Regions from separate parts of the Homo sapiens genome. Here region 2 is linked to region 1. The links come from fine-mapping of genetic effects on gene expression. A gene starts in region 1. The other region holds a variant in brackets. All regions are shown on one strand. Distances are from middle to middle. Region 1 holds the start of INTS6-AS1 (INTS6 antisense RNA 1). Region 2 overlaps INTS6 (integrator complex subunit 6).

Region 1 (2,905 bases):
CAGTTTGAAAAGCACAAATATAAAGAACTAAAGAGCAATTGTATAAAATTATGCAAATGATCAAGTTGAAAGACAAATTTCATCTTTATAACTGGTAAAATAACTCGTATTTTGCCATAGAACTCTGATTCTTATCTTCAGATCTATGATCCGTTTAAGAAACACTAAGGCAAAGCTGAAACCTTGGAAAATGTTCCTGCATCACCCCAAGGTAATACATTTTTATTTTTTCTGATTTGGTGTCTAACAACTTTCTGCCTTGGAGTAGCTAGTAATATGTAGCATTTTCCTAGAAAACATAAGCTCTTTGAAGACAGGGACCACATTTTATTTATTTTTTATATGCACCACACCTAATACACAGTACATCCTCAGCAAGTACTGGCTGTAAAGCCTATATTCCATGCTCTTATTTTGTAGTCCAAATCACTTTAAAAATCACACTTCTTCTATTGTTCATACTCATAGAAGAGCATATTACTCAAATAGCTCTGCTATAAATTAACAGTAAGTTTCAGAAGTTATACCAAGTCACGAGACTCAGATTTTTAAAAAGTGCCACAAAGTGTCTCTTCTGTGTCAATGTTAATAGAACCCTTTCTTTAAATGATCAGTAGGCAAATTAAGAATTTCCGGATAAAGAACAAACTCTGGAAAAACAAAGCTAGTGGGAGAGGCCCTGTAAATACCTACCTAGTCTTACAAGGGCTGTCTCTAACTCAGCTTGTATTTTAGGCAGCGTCTTCAGTTTTTCAACTAATGTGTTTGAGAAAACTGTTTTCCTCGGACATGCAGGCGTGGACTCCTTACTTCAGGTAAGGTGACAGCAGCTTGACAGAGAGTGCCTTCCCTCCCACGGCATTTGGGACGAGGCTGAAGGAAAGACACAGGCGGGGTTACGGGAAACCCATTCTCTGCGCCATCTGGGCAAGCTGAAGTCAGTTTTTCCGCTTTCTCACGAGGTAATGGATTATCATGGGCTCAGGTCCCCTTCAGCTCTGAAACAGGTATTCTATGGCTCTAAGTAAACACGGCAAGAGACAGGTTATTTCTTTGGTAAGATCAGTTGTATTTCCCAGAGAATAAAACGGGCAACAAACCATTTATCGATATGTGAGTCTTCCCCCTAGGCCCTAGCTATTTGGGGTTGGATAAAGAAAAAGAGGGTTTGCTTCCTTTTTGGCGGGTCCTCCAATGACAGGGCTCCTGGCCCGCTGCGGGTCCAACTCCCACCTCTCGTGGCTCCCCCGAGGCCGAGCGAGGCTCCGTGCGAGGACAGCCCCTCAACCGCACTCCCCAGAGGGAGCGCTGGGACTCGCGGAGGAGATTAGTCCCCGGTCATAAACAACCTCTCACTTCCCCTCCCCCGCCCGCGCCCGCTCGCGCCGGGGCGGCGCGCCGGGGCGGCCCTCCGAGGCCCAGGAACCTCCTCCGGCGCCCGCGAGGCCCCGAGTCCTCCTCCGGAGGGCGGCTGCGGGCCTGCCCTCTTCTCCTAACCAGGTGTTTGTCCACTTTACTCAACCCTTCTTACTCGTCCACGCTACGGCCACCTCACAGGGGCGGCTGACGCCAGCCCCTTTTTCCCTCCCCTCGACCCCTATCACCTCCAACAGCCAAGGAGAGGCCGGCGGCCCTGACGCGCAGGCTCACCGCCGCGGCCGCCCCGCGCGCGCGGACGCGGCCCCCGCCCCCACCTCGCGGTCCTTCCGCAGTCCGGCCCCGCCCCTTCCCGAAGCCCGCCTCCGGGTCGGCCCGCCCGCCCGCTCGCGCGCACCCGACGCCCCGCCTCTGCGCGTGCTCAATAACTGTCCCCGGAGCCGGCCTACAAGCTTCCCCCGCCCCTGAGCTGTTTAAATATGCTAATGAAAGGATAGGGCCTGACCAGTAGAACGGCGAGGCGGTGTATCACGTGGCTCGGGGACGTGTCAGGGGCGGAGCCTCCGCAGCCCCTGCCCGAGTTAAAACCGGAGTGTGAGAGAGAAAAGCGCTTCAGTAGCGAGAGGGGCTGAGAAAGTGGTGACACCGCCGGGGTGCGGAGGGAGTCCCTGAAACTTCTCCCAACAGCCCCAGGGCCAATCTTCCCTCAGCCCACTCCCCTCTTCGCCAGCTCCCAGGTCCCCACTCCTGTACCGGGGGTGGGGTGGGGAGCCAGGCCCGTCTCCCGCTGGGACACACACAGGGGCCGGGAGCGGGGACGGGACCCCCGAGGCGGGGGGGACGAACCGACAGACAGACGGCTGGGCGCCCGCCCCAGCGGGCAGGCAGGCAGGAGGAGGCGGAGGCGGGGGTACGACGGGGAGCACTGGGTCTGGGGAGTTTCCTCTCAACTATCGGGGGAGAAACTCCCCGCAGCCGGAGGAAAGACCCAGACAGTGTTTTCCTCCCGGGGGCCGTGCTCCCCCGCCCCGCGTAGCGGCGGTCGCCGCCACCGGCGCCTCCACCTCTACCATCTCCTCTTTCTCCACCACCTCGGGCCCCGGTGTCCCCGGCCAGCACTATGCCCATCTTACTGTTCCTGATAGACACGTCTGCCTCTATGAACCAGCGCAGCCATCTGGGCACCACCTACCTGGACACGGCCAAAGGCGCGGTAGAGACCTTCATGAAGGTACCGACTGACCGAGCCCGGGCGGCGACCCCGGCCCGGCGGCCCGCGGGCGGCAGGGTGGGGGAGGGCGGCCGGGGCGGGGGTGTCGGGGACCTGACTGCGGGAGCTGCCGGGCTCGGGGACCCCCTCCCCCACCGCGCGGGCGGGCGGGCGCTGCGAGCCGGGTTCGGCCGGGGCCCGGGCTCCGGCCCCGGGCGGTGTGTGGGGAGCGATCTGTGTGTGGGGGACGGCGTGGAGGGGTGGCCGCTGCGTGTGCGGTACTGTGGGGGCGGCGGGGCCGCTGGGCGCCCCTTCTCC
Region 2 (2,905 bases), 83 kb after region 1:
GGAAGCTAAAGGGCAAGATAATTGAGTGGGTAGTTGTCCCAAATACTTTAAAAAAAAAAAAAAAACTGTTCAATCAAGAGAAATGGAAAGATTCTGTGGTCTTTGGCGATCTTAGCAAGAGCAGTTTCTGTGGAGTAAAGGGGCAGAGCCTAACAAGGGGTTATGGGAGGAGTGAGAGGTGAGAAAATGGAAACAATGGCTATGAGTATAAACGACCAGTTAAGTTTAGTTGTAAAAGGAAGATGGGAAAAGAGCATGGTATCTGGAAGAGTTCACAGGGTTTTGAAAATGGTGATTTTTCTTTGTTTTTAATATCAGAGATGCTTGAGCATGTTTCAGTGCTGGTGGTGGAACCAGTAAAGAGGGAGAGGTTGAAAATAAAAATGAGAAAAGGCATACTCAGCACAAAATTACTGAGAACGCAAGAGGGAATGGTCTAGAGCATAGATGAAAGAATGCTCCCTCCATTGACACTGAATGTGGGGGAAGTGGGGCGAGGGTGTGTGCAATTTAGTTAGAGGAAGGTAAAGGAAGTCCCTTAATCATGGCTTTGCTTTTCTTCCGAGCTCTGTGAGGTAGAAGGTGAAGTATACTGCTGAGACGGAAGGGGATATTGGGAAAGTCAGAGGTTTGAAGAGAGTGAGGGAGTTTAACAATCTCTGTGGGAGAGAGAGAGAAAAGATTGTGATAAGGTTGCTAGACAGTGCCTGGGATCCAAGTAGAGATGGTGATTGTGACCACTCTGTAGAGCTGGGCCCTATTTCTCCAGCAGCGCTCATGATTCCAAATGCAAGTCTGGGGCAAGCAGATAGTGAGTCAAGAGATGGGATTTTGCTTGGCAGATGTTATGGGAAGACAGTAGAATAAGAGAAATTCAGACATTAGTAAAAGTGATATATCACTTTTACTTACAGGGATATAAGCCTGATACAGAATTGGCTACTTAGAAGGGATATGGTTAATAGGAGGAAGAAAGTAGAGGAATTGCTAGAGTCAAAGTCTGGCTGAGTTAAGGAGCAGTAGCGGGAGTACTGTGAAGATGATACTCCTCCATCTCTGAATTTGTCTGGATGTGAAAGGCGAAGGTGTAAGTGTAAGTTCTTTAGAGAGAAGCTGGGGAATGGGGAGGCCAGGTTCTTAACAGGTGATCTGCTTAAACACTGAAGTCACCACAGCACTTCTCAGACTTGAATATGCATGTGAATCACCTGGGAGGTCTAGTTAAACTACAGATTCTCATTTATTCAGTCTGAGGCAGATGAGCATTTCTAGCAAGCTCTCTGTTGGTGGTACTGCTGCTTGTCCACACACCAGACTTCGAGTAGTAGTAAGAACCAAGAATGAAGTCAGAAGGGCTTTGGGGGTGGAATGTGCATGGCAGATGTGCTTGATAGCAATAACTGAAGCATACCTTGAGAATGACCCTGCTTGCAGACAACACCTGC[A/G]TGCGGTTGGGAGTTCTGAGCTAGGGAATAGGGTGGCTAACCCAAAGATCCATTCCCTATCTATAAGGAACATCTGTGCCCCTAACCCATTGTGAAGTGAATGCAGGCCAGACAGGGGATTGAGGCCCTTTGTTTTGGGTTAAATGAAGGTTGCCAGGTGGAGGTTGTTAGGGGGAAGAGTGCTAAGTGAAAATACGATATAAACTGTATACTTTTTGCAAGCAGTTGCCATTTTTCTGCCCAGCCTGCTGCCACTGGGCCGTGCAGTTATCCTGTCCAGCCCACCACCATTGGACTGTATGTAAGGTGCTTCTCCTGCCTAGCTTGCCACCACTGGGCTTGCTCCCCTTTATGTAGCCCCCAACAAAACGCCTTGTCTTGTTTGCTGGCTCTGGGTCTCTTCTTTGGCTTCTTGAACTTGGTGCCATCCCCACTGGAGTTGATAGGGGCTCAGCACAACAGAAGGAAGGCTATGAACTGGGTGCCAGAGACAACAGTGGCTTACAGGCTTGTACCCTGGAGATTGGCCTAAGATAGTGATAAGGAGAGACAGCGTGAATGGCATGGTTGAGTCTCACAAGAGTGCAAGGGAGTAATTTTGCAATAGCACTAGGAAGTGAAGGAATCAGTGACTCCATGTCCTTTTATGCCTATGGAGATTGTGCAAGAGAAAGCAATTTCTACTTTTGGTCTGGAAAGGAGAGCAGTCTCCATACAGGAGAGCTGGGTTTCAGTTAAAGCATAAGTTGTTGTAGAGAATATTCAGTAAAGAGGAGTTTGCAAATCATGGAATCGAATTTAGGAGAGAGTCAGGAATTTGGGGGATTTGTGATGAGTGTATAGGGGAATATGGGTAAACTAAGTTTATAGTTTGGACAGGAAATGAGGACAGTAGAGATGAATTCAGCTGGGATCCTGGAGGTTGGTGAGCAATCAGAGAACTTAAAATTCAGCTGCTTTCTGTGGGGCAAGTCTAATAATCTGGTGTTAAGAGGAAGGCTTGCGAGCTTTCAGTTTTAGTAGTCTAATAAGCTGAAGTGGGCACCAGGTTGCTCTGCACTGGTAAATAAATGATGACTAGATTCTCTAGTTAGAAGGTATACTGTAAAACATTACCTGTTTGGTGGTATGTTCCCTGCAGAATTTGGAACAGTTAAAGGCAGAAATATAAGTGGAAAGTAAAAACTACCCAGTGTTTACTTTTGCCTCTAAATGATACCAGATGTATAAGGCATATGTGTGAGTTAGGGCTCTCTAAGGTAGAGATAGATGACCGTGATAATTTTGATCATAGATATTTCATTGAAGTATCAAGAACCTACTTGTTTCAATAAAATTGCTATAGAATAAACCAGAAAACTAAAAACTACTTGAAATTGGCTTTATTTTTTCCTCCAAGGGTAAAAATTGTAAATATTTTGTAAATACTGTGTATGTGTCACATTGAAATCTACCGTATC

The links. PIP is the estimated chance that this variant, and not a neighbour inherited with it, causes the effect.
Region 2: its variant is fine-mapped to the expression of INTS6-AS1 in whole blood (INTERVAL, PIP above 0.99). The same link has a PIP of 0.9 or more in lymphoblastoid cells.

Annotation. Positions count from the first base shown.
Region 1 is chr13:51,452,118-51,455,022 of GRCh38, reverse strand. INTS6-AS1 (INTS6 antisense RNA 1) reads right to left here and starts at 1,678. Exons shown (of 2, transcript NR_103812.1): 1 at 1,605-1,678; 2 at 307-1,020. It overlaps INTS6 (integrator complex subunit 6), which reads left to right and starts at 1,987. Exons shown (of 18, transcript NM_012141.3): 1 at 1,987-2,608. The coding sequence starts at 2,498. RefSeq lists silencers at 1,222-1,541, 1,632-1,831, 2,062-2,321, 2,562-2,831, 2,842-2,905 and an enhancer at 1,952-2,001.
Region 2 is chr13:51,369,466-51,372,370 of GRCh38, reverse strand. All of the region lies in intron 15 of INTS6 (integrator complex subunit 6), which reads left to right. Among named protein-coding and RNA genes, the nearest start is that of MIR5693, 22 kb to the right of the region's middle. RefSeq lists an enhancer at 1,191-1,690. The variant A/G (reference allele first, on the strand shown) is at 1,446.